4 linked regions of the Homo sapiens genome follow. The protein of the gene in region 1 purifies or fractionates together with the protein of each later gene. This does not show direct contact. Each region holds a gene or a part of one and is shown in the gene's direction. Other genes may lie near its edges.

Evidence for each region.
Region 2: the proteins of CHST10 (region 1) and PON2 purify together in Homo sapiens (affinity purification with mass spectrometry; 3 studies listed by BioGRID and IntAct, with this or other methods). This does not show direct contact.
Region 3: the proteins of CHST10 (region 1) and SGPP1 purify together in Homo sapiens (affinity purification with mass spectrometry; 2 studies listed by BioGRID and IntAct, with this or other methods). This does not show direct contact.
Region 4: the proteins of CHST10 (region 1) and PARL purify together in Homo sapiens (affinity purification with mass spectrometry; 3 studies listed by BioGRID and IntAct, with this or other methods). This does not show direct contact.

Annotation. Positions count from the first base shown.
Region 1 is NC_000002.12:100,393,669-100,400,702, reverse strand, and holds part of CHST10 (carbohydrate sulfotransferase 10), read left to right. Parts: intron 1-2,560; coding exon 2,561-2,795; intron 2,796-5,088; coding exon 5,089-5,194; intron 5,195-6,920; coding exon 6,921-7,034. UniProt on the Homo sapiens protein: Catalyzes the transfer of sulfate from 3'-phosphoadenylyl sulfate (PAPS) to position 3 of terminal glucuronic acid of both protein- and lipid-linked oligosaccharides.
Region 2 is NC_000007.14:95,404,348-95,411,048, reverse strand, and holds the end of PON2 (serum paraoxonase/arylesterase 2), read left to right. Parts: intron 1-947; coding exon 948-1,148; intron 1,149-3,980; coding exon 3,981-4,062; intron 4,063-4,801; coding exon 4,802-4,930; intron 4,931-5,560; coding exon 5,561-5,719; 3' UTR 5,720-6,187; downstream 6,188-6,701. UniProt on the Homo sapiens protein: Capable of hydrolyzing lactones and a number of aromatic carboxylic acid esters. Has antioxidant activity. Is not associated with high density lipoprotein.
Region 3 is NC_000014.9:63,725,057-63,732,985, reverse strand, and holds the start of SGPP1 (sphingosine-1-phosphate phosphatase 1), read left to right. Parts: upstream 1-4,920; 5' UTR 4,921-5,041; coding exon 5,042-5,725; intron 5,726-7,929.
Region 4 is NC_000003.12:183,828,747-183,832,890, reverse strand, and holds the end of PARL (presenilin-associated rhomboid-like protein, mitochondrial isoform 1 precursor), read left to right. Parts: intron 1-3,181; coding exon 3,182-3,293; 3' UTR 3,294-3,620; downstream 3,621-4,144. UniProt on the Homo sapiens protein: Required for the control of apoptosis during postnatal growth. Essential for proteolytic processing of an antiapoptotic form of OPA1 which prevents the release of mitochondrial cytochrome c in response to intrinsic apoptotic signals.

The DNA of each region.
Region 1 (7,034 bases):
CGGTCTCAGAAAAAAAGTTTACTTTGTGCATGGTGTAGCCGAATGTTTGAATGGAAAATAGAAAATAATATTTGTCTTTAAGTTGGCTTTGTATATTTCCAAAGGGAAAAAAGAAAACAATGCTCATTCTTACACACAATTGAACAAGAAATCTTTTTTCTTTAGCTGGGCATGGTGGCTTACGCCTATAATCCCAGCACTTTGGGAGGCTAAGGCAGGAGAATCGATTGCGCCTAGGAGTTTGAGACCAGCCTGGGCAATATACTGAGACCTCATCTCTACACAAAATACAAAAATCAGGTGGTTATGGTGGTGTGTGTTTATAACCCCAGCTACTTGGGAGGCTGAGGTGGGAGAATCACTTGAGCCCAGGAGTTGGAGGCTATAGTGAGTCATGATTGTGCCACTGCACTCCAGCCTGGGTGACAGAACAAGACCTCGTCTCTTAGAAGAAGAATTTTTGTCTCTAATGCTTTGCTAAAAGAAAAGCAATATCTAATATCTTTTCTTTGTTCAAAGAAAAGCAGTATCTAAAAGTGCAGAGTTTTCTGCATTTTCTAAAGGGAACTTGTTGGGAGGTGCTCTCTCCTGATGCGCTGTTCTTGAGTGCCATCCATGATCAGGGTTAGGTTTGGAACAGAGAGGGAGGAGAAGACAGAGAGGCTCTTTTGGGATAAGTGAGCAAGAGGTGGGATGGATGAGGAAATGAGGTTAAACGAGACCCGTTCTTGTAAGAGCAAGGAGAGTGCCTGGCGTGGCTCCTGGTTTTCCATGGTGGGTGGAGGGCCCGGGCAGCCGCTGATGCCCTGTGGGGAGGAACGGAGGCCACTCTGCAAAGGGGCCTCTCGCTTCCCCAGTGTCTTCATCTCGAAAAGCAGGCAGTCAGTAGCCCCCAGGATGCTCTTCCCACCACCAGGGAATCCCAGGAAATTCACTTAAACACACAAGGGAGAAAGCATCCTGGCCAGAGGTCATGAGTGTAAGAGAGTTTGGTTACAGTAGATCCATAAAGGAAGAGCTGGGTGGGGGGCCCTGAGGGGGGACCTCTGTCATCCTGATAGTTCCAGCGTCCCGGTTCTAGTGTGTTCTAGAAGTCTTATGTCCTTCCCATTTTCTAACTGACGTTGTCCCCTGGGAGGACAGGTTGTTAAAACTACCCTATAAATGGATTTCCTGGCAAGCCCAGTGCATTTTAAAAGATATAACAAGGATATTTGGGTCCATTCAATACAATTATTTGGAAGGATCATCTGCTTTGAAATTTTGGGAAGTTCTGTGTAGCTTTAAGAGATAGATATGGCCGGGCGTGGTGGCTTACGCCTGTAATCCCAGCACTTTGGGAGGCCGAGGTGGCGGATCACAAGGTCAGGAGATCAAGACCATCCTGGCTAACACAGTGAAACCCCGTCTCTACTAAAAATACAACAAAAAATTAGCCAGGCATGGTGGTGGGCACCTATAGTCCCAGCTACTCGAGAGGCTGAGGCAGGAGAATGGCGGGAACCCGGGAGGCGGAGCTTGCAGTGAGCTGAGATCGTGCCACTGCACTCCAGCCTGGGCCACAGAACGAGACTCCGTCTCATAAAAAAAAAAAAAAAAAGAGAGAGAGAGAGATGTAGCAGCTGAAGCCTTAAAAATGCTGAGAAACAGGGCCACAACTAGAGGGGGCCGATGGGGTTGGTGGAGGCTGCCCTGCTATTCAGGAATGCCCTCAGGATGCCTCCAGAGAACAAGGAGGTGTGAGCAGCAAGGGGACTTTAACTCACCGAGGACAGGGGGCCTCTGAGCAACTTCTGTGTGTACTGGCACATCTCCCTGTGCCCCCTCCAACCCATGCACACACAAGGCCTCTCACATTACAGGTATTCTCTTAGGTTCTAAAACAGCCCTGAAAAGAATGGACCAGCATGTAGAATTTGAGCTTTTTCATCTTTTTCCCCCTAGCTAGAGGATTCCAAACTTCTTACTTTGGTTTTTAATTTCTTTTTTCCCCCAAGACGGAGTCTTGCTTGCTCTGTCGCCCAGGCTGGAGTGCAGTAGTGCGATCTTAGGCTCACTGCAACCTCCACCTCCTGGGTTCAGGTGATTCTCCTGCCTGAGCCTCCTAAGTAGCTGGGATTACAGGTGTGCACCACCACACCCAGCTAATTTTTGTATTTTTAGTAGAGATGGGGTTTTACTATCTTGGCCAGGCTGATCTCGAACTCCTGACCTTGGGATCTGCCCACCTTGGCCTCCCAAAGTGCTGGGATTACAGACATGAGCCACTGTGCCCGGCCTTATTTTGTTTTTTAAAGTCAAACTTCTCTCCAAAGATCTGAGGAACCAAGCTTGCATTCATTTTCCTTGCCCAGCCTGCCGATCGGGCTGGTGGAGAGGCTCTGAAGGCCTCATGAAGGGGCTGGGGATAGTGGGTGTCACTCTGTAGACAGACAAGGAAGGGAAGAAGAGAAGGCTCCAGATGGAAAGGAGGGGATAGACCAGCAGGAGCGGCTCTGCTTGGCCCGGTCCTGCCTCCTTTAATGGTCCCTGGGCCTCTTCTGCTCTGTGTCACCTGCAGCCAACTGGGAAGGAGCTTCCAGACAGCCAGCTCGTTCAGCCCCTGGTCTACATGGAGCGCCTGGAACTCATCAGAAACGTCTGCAGGGATGATGCCCTGAAGAATCTCTCGCACACTCCTGTCTCCAAGTTTGTCCTGGACCGAATATTTGTCTGTGACAAGCACAAGATTCTTTTCTGCCAGACTCCCAAAGTGGGCAACACCCAGTGGAAGAAAGTGCTGATTGTTCTAAATGGTGTGTGTGGGTCTACTGAATGTCCACTGGGAAGGGTCTTGGTGGCCGGTGCTGAGGAGGCTGGGGAGGACAGCAAGGAGGAGTCACAAGAGGGCTGGTTTGACCTGAAGGGACTGGTGGCCGTCCAGACAGGCCTGTTTTTGTTGTTTCCTGTTAGTGTTGTGCCTTACAAGTTAGTGGGGCTCGTTTAGACACCGATTCTTTTCAAAGGGGCACAGCCACAGTCCAGCTCTCCTCACCTGTCACAGCAGATCCTCACTTTAGGTGGCTCGCCCACCCCCAGGCCCCCCTCCTTTGTCTCTTCAGGTTCCCTGTGCTGATGGTTATAGTCACCCACTCTGTCCGACATCCCCAGGGCCCCACACTCGCAGAGCCACCAGGAAGCCTCACGGTCACCCTCTCTGCAGTGAGAAGGGCTCACACTGTAGAGCCTGGGAGGGGAGCCCTGGCCCGGGGCCTGGAGCCTCTTTACCTGCAGACCAAGCGTTCTGTGCCAGCGAGCAGGAAGAAATTGTACCCCATTTCACACTAAGCATCTGTGTTCAGAGGATTGAGTCAGCTTGCTTCAGGAAACCTGATGTTTGCTAGGGAACAAATTAGATCATCACAAAGTAACCTCATACACTGCAGTTTTGATTACTCACTACTCTTTTTAGAGATGTCTATTTATTTAAATTCCAATTAGTCTGAACCGATCCTAATAATTATGGGCTCTGCTTATGAAATTTAGCTTCAGACAGGAGTTAGTTCCAGTCAACAGCAGTGGGACTCCTGGGTCAGAAATCGGATTTTGGGGCACCATGGGTAGGTGGCCCTAAGGCTCCATGTCCTGCTTGCCACTCCTGATGCTGCCCACAGAGTCGGTGGTCACTCCTGGCCACTGTTTGGCCTTCGCAGGGGTTGGCTGGGAGAGAGAATGGTGGCACCTCATCATCTGGTTGTCACATATAATTAATGTGCTTCTGCAGTGATTGGATAGCATGTTGGGTTTTCAGAAGCAGAATGAGGCTGCAAATCGAATTGAAAACAAGGAATATACAAAGGCTCACAAATCAGCCACCACAGTGTGAAGCAGCATACTTTAAGAAGTAAACACCCACTTAGAAGGGCAGCATAGAAATCAGAGTGGGCTTGCTGGATCATGTAATACAGAAGCGGGTGGTCCTTGTGGCTATCTTCGGTAACCACTAGTGCACCTGGATGGGGACAGGTGCATGAATGGGCCCATATGTGGACCCACAGAGCTGGTTCTGTCATTGTCCCCTTGAGAGCAGTGCTCCCCACGCCTAGTTTACAGCCATCCATAGCATGTACCGCAGAGTTCTGGACTGGGCTTTAAACACTCGGGGGAGGAATCAATAAAACAGACAAGACTGTGTCCACTGGTCAGATGGCCCAGGGAGATTCTTCCCTGCCAGGACTCCAATCTTAACCCTACCGGATTAACACAAAGATGGATATTAAGGCTTACAGAAACTTGGAGAAAACCTCAGCATACTGACAGTGTATTTCCATTTGTCTGTATTGAGAAAAGAGTGAAAAACCTGCTCAGCCACCAACCCTAGGATGGTCTCTGCCCAAGTTCCATTCAGCAGCCTGGACCTGCACTGGTCCCTGATGACAGACCCTGGCTGTTGGCACGGCCCTGCCTTCTCGACATACCTTGTCCTCTTTTGACTCCTGTCTCAAATGTATCACAGCTCCCATAGCTTAGTCAGATTTTTCCAGCATCAAAAGGTCTTTGCTCTTTGCCAGCCTGGGATGCTGCTGGGGTACCTGAGAGCCACTGTGGGCCAGGGGCATGTGGTGCTTGGAGAGCTTAGCCTGTCTATGGGATGGGGCTGTGAAGCTGCTGCGGGCATCTGTTAGCATGACGTTCCAAAGTCCTGCTTCTCTGGCATTTTCCCCCAGTCTCAGAGTAGAGTAAGTGTTGCTGGTGTTAGGAGTTCTGTTTGCATGCAGCGATCTTCCTCTAATGGCAGATTTAGCCCAGTTAGGTCCATTGCCAGGGGTAGGCACTGCCAGCATTTCCACTCCTGCTCCCTCCCCCTCCTCCCTGAAATCATCAGTTTCCTCTAGTTGGCTTATGGATTCCCAGAAGCTTTTCTTCACTCGTTCATCCTGCTGGCAGAAGCAGTTGAAATTCAAAGACCTAAACTTGGATATTGGGGGTGGGCTTGTCATGCACACGTGGGGAACATGAGGCCCAAGGTAAAGATGAGGTAAGGACATGCCCTTCTCTAAGGGGCGTACTGGAGCAGCCAACCTGCCTTCCTTTCCGTTTACTTCCCAGGAGCATTTTCTTCCATTGAGGAGATCCCCGAAAACGTGGTGCACGACCACGAGAAGAACGGCCTTCCTCGGCTCTCTTCCTTCAGTGATGCAGAAATTCAGAAGCGGTGAGAACAGCTTCCTCAAAGGGGAGGGGGGAGTTTTTGTAAACCTGAGAAGAAATTTGGGGAAAACCCCAGGCTGAGTTCTGTACTTGGCAGATTGATCGGAGGACCACAGAGGGCTGTCGGTTTGCATCAGTGAGAGGCAGCTAAGCTACACCCCCCATTCGGCGCCTCAAAACTCTCAGTTCCTTCTGAGAATTTCCAGCCTTACCTTCACACAGTCCATTAACATGAAGGTGACATCATTTTGTTAATAGAAATTAGCAGGCAACTTTGTTCTGCTTTGGTAAAGTTTTATAGATTGCTTGCTGAATATGATCTTTTCTTTATAAGAAAGGGATTTGGATTGCAGAGATCTCACTGAGTATTTGATTCTCCCAGAGGCATTGTGCCCACTGCTGTGGGAGCTGCCCCTGCAGTGGTTGTGTGGGCTGCATCCAGCATGGGCAGGGTAGAGAGACGGAACCCCTGATCGCAGCAAGGACGGAGTCCAGGCTGGGCGCAGTGGCTCATGCCTGTAATACCAGCACTTTGGGAGGCCGAGGTGGGCGGATCATTTGAAGTCAGGAGTTCAAGACAAGTGTGACTGACAGAAACCCCGTTTCTACTAAAAAAAAAAAAATAGCCCGCTGTGGTGGCACACACGTGTAGTCCTAGCTACTCAGGAGGCTGAAGCAGGAGAATCGCTTGAACCCTGGAGGCAAGGGTTGCAGTGAGCCAAGATCTGGCCACCGTACTCTAGCTGGGGCGACAGAGCAAGACTCTGTCTCAAAAAAAAAAAAAAAGAAGATGGAGTCCTTAGCTAATAGATGAGAAAGTTCTCATGTAGTAGCTCTCAGGTGGCCCAGGAGAGCAAGGCTGAAAAGGAGTGAGGATGCAAAAGCAGCGGCTCACGTCAGGTCACCAGCTGGATTTTGCCTCCTGGGTCTGCAGCCACCTGCCTTGCATGGCGCCTGACCTGCATGGCACCTGCCCATCCTTACAACCCTTACCAGAGATGCTCCTGGTGAGGAGTGTCCTGCTGTTGCCCTGAGCACTCATGGGGCTTTTGTGAGACTCAGTGAGTGAAGACACGGCAAAGCACAGAGAGCAGTTTCTGGCCTGTCGTAATCACACCGTGTTCTGTGATGTCACTGTTGTCATCGTCTTTGTCATCGTCACTGCTGCCGGCCCTCCTCCCCAGGGCCATGCTCTGCTGCCGCCCGCTTGCAGCTCACCCAGACCTGCTCCTGCCCTCTGGAGCGTGAAGCCTGACTCTCTGTTTTCTCTTGCCCCCCTTCCCCTGGCAATTTGAATTGAACTTTTAAAAATATGCCCTTAAAGTAACTTTCCCTGGCACCATCTATTCCTGACTCAGAGTTCCTGCCCTTATGATTTTCTGCCCAGGAACAAAATTTGTAAACATTCTTGAAGTTTTGAATCATTCAAGTAAAACAGAAGGTAGATTAAATAGATGTCTTCACAGTGACTGCCTACAATGAGTACTGTGGCCTTGGACAGGTAAGGTTTTCCAAGCCTCTGTTTTCTCACCTGCAAAGTGTGGTAATAACAGGATTAATCCACAGGATCTTGGAGTAGATTAAGAGACGTGTGGAATGCATTCATGGCAGCCTCGGCACGTGAGGGTCCCATACACAGTGCTGCACTCCGCTCATTCTTCCCTCTCCCGCCCCCTCAGCTGTGACCTCCTGTGGCATCAAGTTAACCTCTTGTTCGTTTTTTTCCTTAGATTGAAAACATACTTCAAGTTTTTTATTGTAAGAGATCCCTTCGAAAGACTTATTTCTGCATTTAAGGATAAATTTGTTCACAATCCCCGGTTTGAGCCTTGGTACAGGCATGA
Region 2 (6,701 bases), on another chromosome or scaffold:
CTTCTTTTAGTTTAAACTTGATGAATATTTTTAATTTCTAATGAAATTTCATTTCTAATGAAATTAAAAATATTGCCTATCTAGGGCCTATCTATGCCTATCTAGGGCATAAGCATGTAACTTCCAATCATTCCTTCCAAAAATGCACTTGATAAAAAAAAATAGGAGCATAAATACCATCCAAGCATTATGGTGCTCTTTCAGAAAAATGAGACCTACCTTCCCTGTAGCTCTATATTTTTCATTTAGCAAAGAATAAAGCAGCTCTTTCAGAAATTTTTGCATAGAGTAATTGGAATTTAAATTTAATAACACCCTCACCTAACTGGTCTTAAAATGAAATTGTTTTTAGCATATAAATCTCTCACCTGAAGCATTGTACTATGGCAATTTTATCATCCATCTCTCTGCAAGTGTTTATTGAGTGCCTGTTCATTCTCGGCATGTCAGCTTTGTGAAGCAGGTAGAAATTGAACAGTCAACCTTAGTTTGACTAATAACTAAGCCAGGGAAATTAGAAAAATCCAGGAACTGAGTAAATGGAAGCTAGGTAAATGTTACTGACTGCCTAACCAGCTCACCAGCCAATCAGGCTCTCTCCAGCTCTGTACTGTGGACAGCTCTGTCCTTACGTATAATTGTTAAACCCTACATTTCTTGCTGTCAAAAAACATGCCCTGATGGCACTAAGTTCTTTCTTCTCTTATGGTAATCCTGCCATAATTGCTAAATGACCTGTGTTCAGATTACCTGGTACCATACAAAATTGTTCTCTGGCAACAATATTATAGTATATTGTATATGACTATAGTCGTGATTTTTAGCTCGTCTTTTCCTCTTACCAAAAATTTAAAGCACATGTTGCATAAATCTTATGAGTACTTAATATTTAATATGGAGACCAACAGGCCTTTTGTTTCCTCTCACATGCTATTTTTCTTTTTCAGTGTGAATGACATCACAGCTGTTGGACCGGCACATTTCTATGCCACAAATGACCACTACTTCTCTGATCCTTTCTTAAAGTATTTAGAAACATACTTGAACTTACACTGGGCAAATGTTGTTTACTACAGTCCAAATGAAGTTAAAGTGGTAGCAGAAGGATTTGATTCAGCAAATGGGATCAATATTTCACCTGATGATAAGTATGGCCCCTTATAGAATATCTTCATTTTTCTTCAGTTGTGGTGCTGGCCAAATTCTTTACTTTGCTTTCTTTGTCAATGTGAAAATAGTTTTCTTGACATTTATGGTATATTATACATATAATATATAGATACACTATATATATAATTATATATGTTTTGTATATATATTTACATATACTTAGTCACATGTATTTATATGCAAATACAATACCATATTTAAGTAAACTATATAATACAGTAATATATATGTATTTATATATAATATATAAAGTTTGGAATACATCATTGTCAAATTTAATTTTATAAATATAAATTTTAAAGTGTGATCATACTGATGCATACATATTGAAGTATCAGGTATTTCCTTTTAAATAAATGTATTATTTTTATTGGCTATACATTATTCCATTATAAGGATGATCTTAAACTAATTTAACCAATTCTCTATTGATGGATATGTGTATAGGGGTGGGGAGTTCTACATAAAAAATATTTTATACTTCTTATTTACCATGGAATTTTAAACAAGTATTTTTTTTAAAGAAAAAGTCCCTAGGAGAGTGTTTTTTTTTTGTTTTGTTTTTTGGAGATGGAGTCTCACTCCGTCGCCCAGGCTGGAGTGCAATGGCATGATCTCAGCTCACCTCAACCTCCGCCTCCTGGGTTCAAGTGATTCTCCTGCCTCAGCCTCCCAAGTAGCTGGGATTATAGGCATGCGCCACCATGCTTGGCTAATTTTGTATTTTTAGTAGAGATGAGGTTTCTCCATGTTGGTCAGGCTAGTCTTGAACCTCCAACCTCAGGTGATCCGCCCACCTCAGCCTCCCGAAGTGCTGGGATTACAGGCATATGCCACCACACCTGGCTCTAAGAGAGTATTATAACATAATGGTTAAACTTGCAGATTTTGGACTCATACAGGCCTGGGTTCAAATCCCACCCAGGGCACTGGCTAAATGGTTCTATGAGCTACTTTTCTGTAGAACAGACCCCTAGAAATAGAACTATTTGCTCAAACAGTGTGATTCTTTTAAATGTTAACTTTAATAGATATTGCCAAATTGTCCTCCAGAATTATCTCATTATTTTTATATGCACAACCACAACCTATAAGAGAAGATATTAAATTCTTGATAGCTTTCTTATCTACTGCCTCAGCACACTGAAAAATTTAAACTACTACAAATACAACATAAAATAAATTTGGCACTCCTTGACAACTAAATGCCCTTATTTTTGTAATCCAATTTCTCCTCCTTTCTTGTTGACTATAGAAAAAGAATGTAGAATCATTTAATTTAAATTGTCTCTAACTGACCTGATCCAACCTCTGCAGCCAAATCTGTTTTTCACTCTTATATTTCCATTATGAGAGTCAAACTTTCCAATCACCCAAGCTAACAAAAAAATAACAATAATGAAAAGGGAGAATCAGCTTTTACTCCTCTTTCACCATTCCTATCCAGCCTGTAGGCAGGTCCTGTTGGTTCTACCTGTGCCTCCTTCCTCTACCCCCAAACTCCTTTCCCTTTGAGTGAGACCTGCCTAATTTAGGTTGTCATCCTCTCTGACTAGCATATGAGACTTTCTTCCAATTTGTTTTCTGTCTACTTGGATTTTTTTCACTCTTGCCAATTTTGTCTGTCTATCTCTATTAGCCTTGAAGGGCTCCCCAAAGAGGGAACTCTGTCTTCCTCACCTTTGACTCCTTATGCCAGTACAGTGCCAGGCACAAAGCAAATGCTCAGGAATTGTGGAACAGAACTGACCATTTGTTGCCACTTTATTATTCTAAGATTTCAGTGGAATCCAATTGCTTATCAAATCAAGGCAGGGTAAAGGGTTGGACTTTGTTTAACAGGCCACCTCCAACCTCCCTTTTCTACTATTTCCATGCTTTCTATGCTTTAGACAAAGAACTCATTGTTTTAAACATTCCTTCCTCTTCTTGCTCCTGTGATTCTGCTCTTGTGCTTGCTTCTGCCTGGGAAGTGCCTCCTCCGTCCTCATCTCAAATCTCATCTCTCTTTACACAGCCACTGCAGATGCCCCTTCCTTGGTGAGCCTTTCTGTGTCCTCGGAAGTTAGCTATTTCTAGACCTGAACTATTTCTCATGCTTATTAGGTGTTTAATGTGTACAAACCAGTGAGATTTGTTCCAACACACTATAAACTTTCAAGGAGAGAGGCTGTGTCTTCTTCATGTTTATATCTGCTGCAACACTGAGTTCATGGCTTTTCACACATAATTGCTCAACAGAGCAGGTGCCATGGAAAGTCAATTCAATGAGTAAAATTACCTCAAAATAGTCTGTTAATTCACTCACCTTTGAAGTAGACAGATTATTCTGCATTGATACTTATCTCTTACTCTTAAAATTCGCTATGTATTAATAAATATTTTATTGAATATTAAGGAATGATCACTATTTTAATAAGATGTTCTTTACCATATATTTCTATATGTACATGATAATTAGAAGTATCAAATTATATTGTGGAATGTAAAAGCTTTTCTTCTGAAGCCAAGCATTTGTTTTATTGTCATTTCAGTGGCAAATATGGACTTCATATTCAAAATGATGTTCTATATTATTTTTCCTTACAAGCTTTTTGAAAAACAATTTAATAATTCCATGATTGTTGTAGCACCACTGAATTGATTCTGAAAGCTTACTTTTTAAATAAAAATTGACCTTTATCAAGCATTCCTTGAGGGCCCATGATTGATTAACTTCTTGGCAGGTTATTAAGACTTATTCTTTCACACTGTATTAATGAAGCTTTATATTGGCATGGAGCTCTAACCACTGTGTCCTTTCTGCAAAGGTATATCTATGTTGCTGACATATTGGCTCATGAAATTCATGTTTTGGAAAAACACACTAATATGAATTTAACTCAGTTGAAGGTAAAATATTTATTTTTACATATAGACAGTAATCTATTATGCTTTGCAATGACATAGTTTTTCTATAAGAGTACCACACGTAGAACAAAATATGGATGCCAGTGTAGCTATTCTGGGTTTTTAAATACTCCCTACAACTAGAGAAAGCTCCTGTTTCCAGCGATCTCAAGAACTGACCATGATTACATGCAGCAGCAGGTTGAGAGTGATATTCATCAGATTTAGGGCCCATTCCATGAAGTATTGATGGCAGTGGAAGAATTCCAATAAGAATTTTCACAATTGAAAATACTAATAGATGAATTCTCAAATGAAGGTTTATGCACAGTGTCAGTTCTTTCAATAATACATGAAGGTAGAAATTGGGTTCCACACCATTATTATTTTCTTCCTACTCAACAACACATATTTTAGGTTGATTAAGAATTTCCTATCTTGCTTTGATTGAGTTCCTTGAGCTAACTGATCATTGTGCATCTTTTAAAGGAAAAGGAGTTCAGTTTTTAAGATAGATTTTTACAGAGACCGATTATCACCCTAACTTTCTTAATTTCAGGGAAGAAGAAAAGTGGCTCCAAACCAGTTTTTAATACATTCCTTTTAAGCAATATTGGTGTTAGAAGGTGGAAGCAGGGCGATGTGTAATTTCCTCACATGCATAGAGGCAGGAAGGTTACCTCTAAATTATTTAATCAAGTTTCTCATGTCATTTAGATTTTGACAATTTCTCATTTGGAAGGTACTTGAGCTGGATACACTGGTGGATAATTTATCTATTGATCCTTCCTCGGGGGACATCTGGGTAGGCTGTCATCCTAATGGCCAGAAGCTCTTCGTGTATGACCCGAACAATCCTCCCTCGTCAGAGGTTTTTATATTTTCAGTTTTTTAAACTTAATTATTCAAGTCCTTTTGAACTAATAATACAATAAATTGTCACAGGGATGATTTGTTTAGTTATTTTAAAGCAATAATATAATAAGCTTATGTCGTGGTTTTGTAATTGCGTTAAGCCAATAATTGGCAGAATGTTACATTGTTCAAATACTTTAAGAAAGGTAATCTTTTGATGTATTAAATTATGGTGGAAACTAGTCAAAAGGCATTTTTATAAAGACATGTGCCCTTCTTGGGTGGTATACTGGCAATTTTTAAAATATCTGATTTATTGTCAGCTCACCACATGATGTGATATTTGTTCATGTTGAAGTAGTGTGAAAGTAGGCACATTAGTATGAAAGTATTTCTATTAAAGCTGAATTGCTATAATAACACTAAATCCTGTGTTGGCATGGAATAACTAGATGGTTTTAAGAAAGTACTTTCTTTGAAGATTGGAGAAAGTACTTTAATTTAAACATTAAAAAGATTGGTAACTGCTATTTTCAACAGCATGTCCCCTTAATCAGTGTGTCATTGTGGAAAACAGGGCTTATTGATGATTGAGTGACATGCATGTACGGTGGTCTTATATTCATACTTTGTATCCCCTGAATAGGTTCTCCGCATCCAGAACATTCTATCTGAGAAGCCTACAGTGACTACAGTTTATGCCAACAATGGGTCTGTTCTCCAAGGAAGTTCTGTAGCCTCAGTGTATGATGGGAAGCTGCTCATAGGCACTTTATACCACAGAGCCTTGTATTGTGAACTCTAAATTGTACTTTTGGCATGAAAGTGCGATAACTTAACAATTAATTTTCTATGAATTGCTAATTCTGAGGGAATTTAACCAGCAACATTGACCCAGAAATGTATGGCATGTGTAGTTAATTTTATTCCAGTAAGGAACGGCCCTTTTAGTTCTTAGAGCACTTTTAACAAAAAAGGAAAATGAACAGGTTCTTTAAAATGCCAAGCAAGGGACAGAAAAGAAAGCTGCTTTCGAATAAAGTGAATACATTTTGCACAAAGTAAGCCTCACCTTTGCCTTCCAACTGCCAGAACATGGATTCCACTGAAATAGAGTGAATTATATTTCCTTAAAATGTGAGTGACCTCACTTCTGGCACTGTGACTACTATGGCTGTTTAGAACTACTGATAACGTATTTTGATGTTTTGTACTTACATCTTTGTTTACCATTAAAAAGTTGGAGTTATATTAAAGACTAACTAAAATCCCAGTTTTGTCTGTGTTTAATTCTGAAGGCATATGGCTAGGAGAAATGGGAAAGCAGCTGCTTCCTTATGGAGTTTGGATAGGCAAGCATGGCCATATTAATTTCTCTTGTGGAAAGCTGAAAGTGAATGGACTCTTAATTTGAAACAACAACAACAAAAATCAATGAAATATTGCAACTCAAATTCCCAGTTCCTAAGGAGGTTTCCATCAGCTCTCTTCCTTAATGGGAGTCCACTTTAGAGACAAAGAGGAAATAAGGGTTGGGACAGGAAGGTCTTGCCACCTCCTCATTGAACAGAACTGTGAACTAAAGCCAGGAGAATGAAGTCAGTCGTCCGTGACCACATGGTTAAGCAGCAGCAATGCTAGGATCAGGGCCGCGTGCCCAGCTCACAGAGGGAGAGTTTTTCTGCTCACTGTACCTCCTATAAAATCATCATAAGCCCTAGAGAGAGACTTTCATGTGTTTCTTTCCATTGTAATTTATCAAACCACTTTACTTCACTTCTCATACT
Region 3 (7,929 bases), on another chromosome or scaffold:
TCACACCTAAAATCCCAGTACTTTGGGAGGCCAAGGTGGGTGGATCATGAGGTCAGGAGTTCAAGACCAGCCTGGCCAACATGGTGAAACCCCGTCTCTGCTAAAAATACAAAAATTAGCCAGGCGTGGTGGCACATGCCTGTAATCCCAGCTACTCGGGAGGCTGAGGCAGGAGAATTGCTTGAACCCAGGAGGTAGAGGTTGCAGTGAGCCGAGATCACGCCACTGCACTCCAGCCTGGGCGAAAGAGCAAGACTCCATCTCAAATAAAAATAAAAATAAAAATAAAGTCAAGTACAGAGAAGGATATAAGAAAATCAACATGTTAATTATGAAGCATGGATATGATACAGTTCTCATATCACACGATATCTTTATTTGGCTTTGCAGGAAAGACACTGAATCATACCCAGGTAGTATATCCCTACTTGGCAGCAATATTTTTTCTTCAAAAAAATGTTTATTCACATTCTGAGAGAATGCAGAAAATAAACAAAAATTTAAAAAATTAAAATTGTATGCTTTGTGATAAAAATACTTGCCATAGAATGTTTATATTTGAATCTTTTAATATAGTTAAATTTTTTTGTTTTCTTTTTACTTTTTTCTTTTTCTTAGAGGCAGGGTCTCACCACATTGCCCAGGCTGGTCTTGACCTCCTGGCCTCAAGCAATCCTCCTGCCTTGGCCTCCCAAAATTTTGGGATTACAGGCATGACCCACTGTGCCTGGCCTATAGTTAAATTTCTATTAAATTTTAAGATATTCTATTAGGAAAATTTCAGAGGGAATGTGGGTAGAAACCACCAAAACTACTATTCTTTATACCATGGCTCTTTGGTATGTAGGTAAGACCTTGTCCCTCTCATTAACAATGATTTATTGCACCAGTGTCAGCTCCTTCAAGTTTTGTCAGCTTGTATTATTTTTCCTGTTTAGTGCAGTTATAGGTCAAATTTCCATTTCTCCATCACCTTTGTTCCCATTACTGTTAAAGGGGATATTGCATTCTGACAAAATATACCAGCGCTAAAGGACTCATAATGCAGCCATGGGATCTAATGATCACCTCTACTTTGTTTTACATACTTTCCTCTTCCTCTGCCATCTCTGGGATAAACAGACCCTAGACCAGGAAATTCCTCAGATGAATCTGAATAATTCCCTTGTAATCAAATTATTTTGACAGAAAAGCACATACACAATCCCTCAGCCTGATGCTGTTCTCCCCTTCTCTCTATAAACCAAGATGCTCCTTGTCTTCAAATGCCAACGAATCATCTGTTTCACAGAACCATTCATAGAGAATCCAATGCCACCTCTCTGCTTACTCCACAGAGTGATTACTTTATGTCTCATTTTTCCAGAGCTGTTTAGTATACCTGGCTTTACACCTTCTTTGAATATATTTGTATCTTTTTCTCATGTTTTCTCTCCTTCACTACATTGCTAATGCTTCAATATTAGATACAAGGGTTGGCCAGGCTCGGTGGCTCATGCCTGTAATCCCAGCACTTTGGGAGGCCAAGGCAGGCGGATCACGAGGTCAAGAGATTGAGACCATCCTGGCTAACACAGTGAAACCCTGTCTGTACTAAAAATACAAAAAATTAGCTGGGTGTGGTGGCAGGCATCTGTAGTCCCAGCTACTCAGGAGGCTGAGGCAGGAGAATCGCTTGAACCCAGGAGGCAGAGGTTGCAGTGAGCTGAGATCACACCACCATGCTCCAGCCTGGTGACAGAGCAAGGCTCCGTCTCAAAAAAGAAAAAAAAAAAAAGAAATTAGACACAAGTTTGTTCTAACCAGGAACAGACTAATATTTGCCTGCAGTCCTATGAATTCAAATGAAACATTTTAATTTTTTCCTAGTTCCAAAATTTCATTCAAATCTATCCCCCGCTTCCAATCCCCCAGAACCAAGGTCCTAGTTCAGGCTGTCATTGTTTCTCACCTGATGACTGCAATAATCTTCTAATTATTTACCTAGCCTTCACTCTCTGACCTCTGACAATCGTCTTTGATTTCTTTCCCAGTTATCTTTCTAAAACACAGTTCTGATGGTGTCACTCCCTAGCCTAAAAGCCTTCCATGGCTCCCACTGCCTACAAAATTAAATCCCTTTGGTATTCAAGGATTTACAACCTAATCCTATCCTCCCTTTGTAATCCCATTTCCAATCACCCTTGCTACTCTATGCTATATGCTATTGTTTTTTGGTTTTTTTTTTCATTTTTTAATTTTTACTGTTTGAGACAAGGTCTTACTCTGCTGCTCAGGCTGGAGTGCAGTGGTACAATCGTAGCACCCCGTAACCTCTAACTCCTGGGCTCAAGCAATCCTCCCACCTCAGCCTTAAAAGTAGCTAGGGCTACAGGCATGTGCCATCACACTCAGCTAATTTTTTTATTTTTCTTTATTTTTAGTCTGAGTCTAGCTCTATTGCCCAGGCTGGAGTGCAGAGGCACAATGTTGGCTCACTGCAACTGCCACCTCCCAGGTTCAAGCCATTCTCCTGCCTCAGCCTCCCGTGTAGCTGGGATTACAGGCACCTGCCACCATGCCTGGCTAATTTTTGTATTTTCAGTAGAGATGGGGTTTCACCATGTTGGCCAGGCTGGTCTCAAACTCCTGACCTCAAGTGATCCACCAGCCTTGGCCTCCCAAAGTGCTGGGATTACAGGCATGAGCCACTGCACCAGCCCCCCACCTAATTTTTTAGAAAATATTTTTGTAGAGTCAGGGTCTTGCCATGTTGCCTAGGCTGGTGTCAAACTACTGACCTCAAGTGATCCTCCCACCTCAGCTTCCCAAAGTGCTGGGATCAAAGGAGTGAGCCACTGCACCTGGTCTCTATGGACTATTGTTTACCAAATACATTTTTGCATATCCCTATCTTCCTTCACTTTCTCTTCCTAAAATGGGCTTCTTCACCTATTCATATTTTGCTCTGTAAAACAATCCAGCTCTACAGGATCACCTCCTAACACCTTTCTTCCTGTTCCTAGTCAAACTTGTCCTCCTTTCTGAGGCATGCTGTTTATGTCTGTTTTACACTTGCCATCTTCTCTATACTCTAGAAGTAGTCCTGTCTTTCTTTATCTCCCCTAAACTGTGAACAACTTGAGAGCATGGGTGATGATTTATTCCTCTTTCTATGGCCACAGCCTAGCAAGTGGAGTGGGAGGAGGAGAGTACCTGTCCCTGCGAAATGAAATTTTTTTTTTTTTTTTTTTTTTAAGATAGGGTCTTACTCTGTTACCCAGGCTGGAATTGCAATGGCACAATCAGGGCTCACCGCAGCCTTGACCTCCCGGGCTTAAATAATCCTCCCGCCTCAGTCCCCCAGTTATCTGGGACTACAGGTGTGGGCCACCATGCCCGGTTAATTTTCTTTTTTTTTTTTTGAGACAGAGTTTCACTCTTGTTGCCCAGGCTGGAGTGCAATGGCGCGATCTCGGCTCACCGCAACCTCTGCCTCCCTGGTTCAAGCAATTCTCCTGCCTCAGCCTCCGAGTAGCTGGGATTACAGGCATGCACCACCCCGCCCGGCTAATTTTGTATTTTTAGTGGAGACGGGGTTTCTCCATGTGGGTCAGGCCGGTCTTGAACTCCCGACCTCAGGTGATCCGCCCGCCTTGGCCTCCCAAAGTGTTGGGGTTACAGGCGTGAGCCACTGTGCCCAGCCCTGCCCGGCTAATTTTGTTCATTTTTTGTAGAGGTGGGATCTCCCTATGTTGCCCAGGCTGTTGTCAAACTCCTGGACTCAAGCCATCCTCCCTCCTCGACCTCCCAAAGTGCTGAGATTATAGGCATGAACTACCACGCCTGAAGGAAAGTATTTCTACTGTTTTAAGGGCATGGGACAATTTCAAGCCTGTTTCTTGGAAGTAGTTCACATTCTTTAATTACAGACATTCACCTGATCATGGCGGGTGTGGTGGCTCACGCCTGTAAACACAGCACTTTGAGAGGCCAAGGCAGGAGAATCACTTCAGCCCAGGAGTTGGAGACCAGCCTGGGCAATATAGCGAGACCCTGTCTCATCTCTCTCTCTCTAGGTATATATAAAAGACATTCACCTGACCTGAGGAGTTCAGAGACCTTATAAACTGCTCTAGCTAGAAGTCAAGTTGGTAACTTGTGAGACACGGAAGTTAAGCGTCTAAATTAACGTTACCAAACTCAAAAATCTATACACTGCATTCATTCTCTACATTTATTCTGTGCAAGCCCTCTAGGTATTAGAATCTAGGAAAAGGAAATTTTACACTTAAGAACACCTGTGCTCCCTTAACATATACCAAAATATTTGATAAATGACACAGTATTTTGAATTTGTAGGTGGCTGGCTTTTCTTTTGCAGACCACACCTGTTAATATCACCTGGCCCTGTCTTGGGATCTACATGTAGTCTTGTCACCACTGGTCAATTGGCACATGGTTTTCCGAACATCAGTCGCCTGGGACAGCTCTGTAATTACTTGTTAATTACTTGAGTCGAATGATTCCGAACTCATGGTAGTTGCTTCGCCTTCATTGATCATTCACCATTTGGTTCTGTGCCAGCAGGATGCCCGGCTGCTTGGTCACAGGCATTGCGCAAGCTGGCACCGGGATCGTGGCCTCTTTAAGTCAACTTCTGGCTGAGGGAATCCGGCGACACTAGCCCGCGGAGAAGAAGGGCTGAAGGTGGAGCAGGGGGACACGCCGCGTCCCACCAGACGTACGCCGCGACGCCTGCTGGTGGATATTACCCGGGACCTCAAAGCGGCCGCCCGCCGATCCTCAGCGCCAAGCCACGGCCGGATGCGCTCAGGGCGGACCCGCGCGGCCCGGCCCCTCAGGGAGCCCGGGTGGGGGCGGGGCTGGGCGGGGCGGGGCGCGGCGCGCGCGGGGCGGGGGCGCGCGGCCTGTGGCGCCGTCACCCGGCAGACTCCGGAGGGTAGAGCGCTGTGCCGGTTCCGCTGCCGCTGGCCAGGAGCGCGGGGACAGTTCGGGGCTGCGCCGGAGGCCGGCCCGCCTTCCCGGGGGTTCCGTTATCATGTCGCTGAGGCAGCGCCTGGCCCAGCTGGTTGGCCGTCTGCAGGACCCGCAGAAAGTGGCCCGTTTCCAGCGGCTGTGCGGGGTGGAAGCGCCGCCGCGCCGCTCAGCAGACCGGAGGGAGGATGAGAAAGCGGAGGCGCCTCTCGCCGGAGACCCTCGACTGCGAGGGCGGCAGCCAGGGGCGCCTGGAGGCCCCCAGCCTCCCGGGAGCGACCGCAATCAGTGCCCGGCCAAGCCGGACGGCGGCGGCGCCCCCAACGGCGTGCGGAACGGGCTGGCGGCCGAGCTGGGCCCGGCCTCGCCGCGGCGCGCGGGCGCTCTGCGCCGCAACTCGCTGACGGGCGAGGAGGGCCAGCTGGCCCGCGTGAGCAACTGGCCGCTCTACTGCCTGTTCTGCTTCGGCACGGAGCTGGGCAACGAACTCTTCTACATCCTGTTCTTCCCCTTCTGGATCTGGAACCTGGACCCTCTGGTGGGCCGGAGGCTCGTGGTCATCTGGGTGCTGGTCATGTACCTGGGCCAGTGCACCAAGGACATCATCCGCTGGCCGAGGCCCGCCTCGCCGCCCGTGGTCAAGTTGGAGGTCTTCTACAACTCTGAGTACAGCATGCCCTCCACCCATGCCATGTCCGGCACCGCCATCCCCATTTCTATGGTCCTCCTCACCTATGGCCGCTGGCAGGTAGGGTTCCTTCTCGTCCTGTTCAGCCTGGGGGAGTTCAAAGAACTCGGAGTTCTCTTTGCTCTCTGCATTTATTTTAATTCGACCGTTCCCCTCCAAAGCCTCTCTTTCCACAGGTTTTCACAATACTCGCAAACAGGCCCTTTCTGGGTTTTGAAAAATTAAGTGATTGGGGGAAACTGGATACTTAGCCGTTGAATTCTATTTTAATATTAAATTCCAATTTAATGCCTTAGAACCCAAAGGACACACTTTTCCTAGAGTAATACATTGTCATTGGGCTTTGGTTGAGTTTTTTAAACGGCTTTAATTCTTGTAATGCACAGTGGAAGTGAATTTTTTAAATAATCGCTATGTAAACTAAGACCCAGTTTCACCGTAATATATGGTGCCTTCTTCCCTAAAACTGTTTCAGAAAGAGGTAAAGTCATTAGCTTTACCGTGAGACAGTGTTTACAAAACGTTAGTGTAATTCCAAAACAAACATGCTAGTTCCAAGCAATGAAGTAATCGATTTTCATCGAAGTTCCCTTTATGGAAGTTAATGGAGCACAGGGTGAGTTCTGTTTTTAAGGGGTGTGGTTGCTACTTTGCTGATAAAGTTTGATTATCTTCTGGATCACTAATCTGTAGTATCTAACAGTTGTTGAGCTACAACTGTAATACTATAGTGTTATTGCCTCATTAACTCTAAAAATGCATGGTTTAAAAGTTATTCTTAAAGATAGGGCTCTTGATCAAACTAGTGGGTTTATAAAAATGGCAAATATGACAGCAGGGTCAGCCTGACAATCAGGAAAATTTTTTTTTTTTTTAACCCTCTCTGAAAACTGCCAAGGGAAGAGTTTTTAATGGTAATCGTTTTTATTTTGCTTACTTCTTTTGGCCTTCCAATGTTTATCTGTCTTTGAACTGTAAGATTTGTTAATCCTGCAGACCAGTCCCTTATTTTAAGAATAAAGTGCGTAATTGTGGAGATTCTAAGGAAACAAACTTCCTCTATTTTTTCCCCCTTTACTTCACAAAATCATTTTACATTGAGAAATACACATTCTGTGTAAAACTCCATTATGATAAGCTTACTTATCCCACATTAAATTTCAGTGTAGATAAAATTTCGTCCCCATGGATACTTCTGTGTAGTGCATCTCTCTTACAGTACATGGAAAATACGCATTGTGCATAGTAAGAATGGCAGAATTAGGAGGAAAGAGTACCATGGGAAGTTTTTTTCTGTTTAACCAAAGGAGCTATACGGTGATGTTCAGATTGTGAAGCAGTGCTACCTGTTTTGCGTAACAGATAAATATCTCGAAGTTTTCATTTAATCTAAATATTTCAGAATTTAAGATTTTCAATGAGCTGTGTTTGGCCTGGTGATGTTAGCTGATGATGTTTCTCTTATTTTCGTGAGACTTTTAGGATTCTGTAACAATAGAGCCTTTTATGATGCCTTCTCAGTGAGTAGCTATTTTGTATGCTATTAGTATTAGCAGTCAAAGTAAGAGAAAATAGCTATTTTTGCTCTTTATTTGTTCTGGACACATACTAACTGGAAGTCTGAAAACAGTACTGCTGAATCGTTTATGGGATATTGATATTCTAACATTTCAGGGTTATTTGAATTATCAGAATAAGCTTAGATTTAGTTTTTAAACAACCTAGTATATTTAACTCAAAGTTTAAGAAATTTGCGTATCATAGAATTTTAGACTTTGAAGTAGACCGGATGTTAGAAATCACTTAGTTTCAAACTGTCATTTTACAGATGTGCAAACTGACCAGTTACATTAAAATTAATCTTGTAATGCTTTAAATTTCTTATTTTACATTTTTTCACTCTAAATTTGCATGATTTTTCGGTTAGTTGTTCTGAAAGAAAGCCTCCTGACGGAGTCTCGCTCTGTTGCCCAGGCTGGAGTGCAGTGGTGCAGTCTCGGCTCACTGCAACCTCTGCCTCCCAGGTTCAAGCAATTCTCTGCCTCAGCCTCCCGAGTAGCTGGGATTACAGGCGCCTACCACCACACCAGCTAATTTTTTAAGGATTTTTAGTAGAGATGTGGTTTCACTGTTTTGGCCAAGCTGGTCTTGAACTCCTGACCTCAGGGGATCCACCCATCTCGGCCTCCCAAAGTGCTGGGATTACAGGCGTGAGCCACTGCGCCTGGCCTAAGCCTCCTTTATATGAAAGTTCTGTGTTTATA
Region 4 (4,144 bases), on another chromosome or scaffold:
TTCAATAGCAGAGCAGAGCTGTAAACCCACCTCTATAAGCCCTTTCCACCCCCACCACACCATATGGAATTGGTTGCTAAACTGCTTCCTTGGGTCACAGCAAATGGCATTGTGGTTACAAGACCTTCCACGTGTGCTTCAAACAATGGGGTTTTGCCTAGACTAGTGCTTAGTAGTAACTGTATCACGGAAACACGGTCAGGACTCTTGGCGTCCATCTGATCGTGGGAGACCCGTCAGCATGAGCTGGATCCCCTCGGGGCCTGTCTTTTCTTACATAAATGTTGCCTTTTGCCCTTACTTGGTTTTTATTTTGTTCCGCGACAATGGAAAACTTAATTTTTTTTTTTATTAAAAAGAAAAATCTATTCTGGCCAGGTGCAGTGGCTCACGCCTGTAATCCCAGCACTTTGGGAGGCCAAGGCAGGCGGATCACAAGGTCAGGAGATCGAGACCATCCTGGCTAACACAGTGAAACCCCGTCTCTACTAAAAATACAAAAAACTTAGCCGGGCGTGGTGGCGGGCGCCTGTAGTCCCAGCTACTCGGGAGGCTGAGGCAGGAGAATGGTGTGAACCCAGAAGGCAGAGCTTGCAGTGAGCCGAGATCACGCCACTGCACTCCAGCCTGGGCGACAAAGTGAGACTCTGTCTCAAAAAAAAAAAAAAGAAAAATCTATTCTAAGTGAAGCAGTTTTTCCCAGTAGGTGGCAGAACTAAATGCCATTATGCCATTTATAATTTTAAGTGATTAAAGAGGAGTAGTATGTAGTATATGCAAGGTCTAGCTCTAACAGCAGTGCAGTATAAATAGTAGAAACTGACCTGATATTACAGTATGAGAAACATGAAGGGGTTCTGTTTTGTGAGCTCTAAATTTATCTTCCATGTATACTTCAAGGCTCTTCTCCCCAGTAGATTTTTATTCATCTGAACTATAATTAGGTGGCCTTTTTCCATTCTGAAAATAATTGGATCAAATGCATTTTAAAGTCCAGGGTCTGAAAGGTGGAGGAATCCTTTCTCTTTACTGTTTCTAATTTAAACTCCTTTTCATTTACTAGATTTCAGTCATGTCCAGAATTCATCTTTTCTAAAAGCTTTAATCTAGATTTAGAAATCTAAAATCTTTTATTTATTTTTTTTTCGTTGAAGTGCCCTGATTTTGTTGGTGGTAAAGACTCCATTAGTATCCACTTATACATTTCCCTGACTTTGCCTCTGACCAAACCTTACAGTATTCACATTGTACTGTTGCAATAATAATAGCTAACATATTAATACGCTGAATATTTGCTGTGTGCCTAAGCTAAGGATTTAATTCTCTTAAAATCCTGTGAGGTATTTTATTTTACAGAAAAAGAAACTGCTTAAAGAAAGTAACTTATCCAGGTCACACAAGTAACAATTGCAGAGCTGGAGTTTCAGATGAGGGCTGGCTTGCGCTGCCGCTACAGAAAAGAGTGCCCTAGAAATCGGTCATCTTGCATTTCCCGATTTTAGTTTAGCCAAATGAAAAATTCCTTTTGGATTTATGAGTATAATCAGACAGTATACCTGTGAAATTAAAGTATTTGACTCTTTGCTTGAAATAAGTAGGTTAAAAAGATTTGGGTGGCCGGGCGCAGTGGCTCACGCCTGTAATCCCAGCACTTTGGGAGGCTGAGGCAAGTAGATCACTTGAGGTCAGGAGTTCGAGACCAGCCTGACCAATATGGGGAAACCTCGTCTCTACTAAAAATACAAAAATTAGCCGGGCGTGGTGGTGCATGCCTGTAATACCAGCTACTTGGAGGCTGAGGCAGGAGAATCACTTGAAGCCAGGAGGCAGAGGTTACAGTGAGCTGAGATCACGCCACTGCACTCCAGCCTGGGCAACAGAGCGCGACTCTGTCTAACAACAAAAAAGATTTGGGAAAACACTTTATTAATGAAGAGTTCCTGACAAAGTGATTTTTTTGGGGAGAATTTTTATAATTGCATTTGAATATTAGGGTGCTCCTTTTTCTCTCATTCTAAATTCACCAGAGACTTAAGCACAGAGAATTTTTATTACATGCCTGTTAATTAATGTGTATAATCAGATTTTAACTATATTTAGTGAATATTAAGATTCAGGTACAAATCAAGCCCTTTATAATTAAACATACACATTCAGAACATTTTTAAAATATTAAAACATTAAACTGCTCTTCTCACCCACTCCAAGTCAAATAGCATTTTTTCAGTCAGGTGTCTGGGAGCTCGATGCAAGATAACAAAATCTGGTCTCTGCCTCAGGGAACATGAAATCTGTTTGGGGAAGCCAGAGCAAAAATAAAGGTTTTAATAGCAAGCTCTCACTAACTGCCCCTGGAAATCCACCCCACATCCTCCAGGAAGCCTTTCTCTACCCCCAGTGCCCTCAGGAGCTTCTCCAAGGCAGGCCCTTCCCAGAGCGCAGTGTGCTCCCCAGCTCACAGAAGATGCTCCCTACACGCTGCAGGAAAGTCCAGTGCCTGCAGCACAGGCTTCAGCAGCAGACTCGGGTTCTAGTCTCAGTCTGCTGATTCCTAGTTGTGGAACCTGAGCAGGCGAAGTTACTAAACCTCTCTGTGCGTCAGCCTCCCAGGCTCGTTGCTTCAGGCCGCAGTTAGGCTGTGTGAACAGGAGAGTGGGGATGGGAACTAGGTATCTTAAAGCGGGGCAGAGTTTGGATGAGCGGGCCACCCTTCGTATAGTTAGGAGGAAGATGACGGGAGGCATGGAAGCTGGGATAGCCATCCTGAGTCAGTGCTAATTCTGACACTTCAGAACATCGAGTCAGTCTGACCTGCGAGTGAGCTTTCATTGACCACTTAGAAACTATTAGCACCTTGGACAAACTACTTTCTTTCAGACCTGGTTGCTTCATGTCTGCGATGGGAAAACTGATACTTAACTTGCAGATAGTGGTGAATCAAAAGTAGTATATGTGAAGTACTCACACACTGCGGAGCATTCAGCCATCGTCCCATCCTACTTCTACCTTTTACATATTGTAATATGAAAGCTAAACCATTTCTCGATGTGAGTCAGTTTTAATCGGCTACATAGTGAGTGGCATTCGATTTTAAAAATGTCAACTTGGGATCTGTCACCATGCTACTTACCATTTGTATGTCACACTGTTTGAATGTCGGACCTGGTTTGTTTTTCTCCAGATGGTATGTTACTTACGGTCATGAACTGATTTGGAAGAACAGGGAGCCGCTAGTGAAAATCTGGCATGAAATAAGGACTAATGGCCCCAAAAAAGGAGGTGGCTCTAAGTAAAACTGGGATTGGACAGTAGTGGTGCATCTGGTCCTTGCCGCCTGAGAGCCCCAGGAGACATCGGCTAGAGTGACCATGGCTATGCTCCCGTCTGGAAGATGCCAGCATCTGGCCTCCCACTGTTTTCAGCTGTGTCCCCCAGTCCGTGTCTTTTTAGAATGTGAATGATGATAAAGTTGTGAAATAAAGGTTTCTATCTAGTTTGTAAGCAGATGTGTGTGTTCTCTCTTTAAGGGGCCGACACGGCTCTGGCATTTTGCTTTGGTTGTTGCATTGACAGGACCTGGGGAGAGTGCACCCTGAAAGGCCTGATCAGAACATGAAGGCGCTGGTTGCCTGTCTTTGGACCCTCCAGTGCCTCTGCTTAGCCTTCACTCTTCCTTGCCTCCCCCTCCCCTGGGTTGGCTGCACATAAAAGTCGAGAGTATCCCCTCTCCAGCACAATCTGAAATAACAGCTGCAGTATTTTCTCAATTTTCAGGAAAGGTAGTGTTTTCTGGCAGTGAGTGGCATATACAAAAAGCTATTTTCAGGTTTTGCTTTCTAGGTTCAATTTGTAGATAAATTAAGAGGTAGAAAGAAGTGATTTGGGTAAATTCAGACTTGAATCTGAGCCGAATTTTATCTTCTGTTTGAAAGTGTTCTAATTGAAGCGTCTCACTGAAATAGCAGATAGTGGCTGTCGTCGTCACAGCCTCACTGTTGTGGAATTCATGTTACCCTCGTGACTGAGAATGACATCTAGGAAATGCAGTTTGAGAGTATGTTCTTCTTGAAGTCATTTACAGGAGAATTTTTAGTCTTTTGATGGCTTCAAAATGTTATACCAAGTCTTGCAGCTTTGTCCTGGG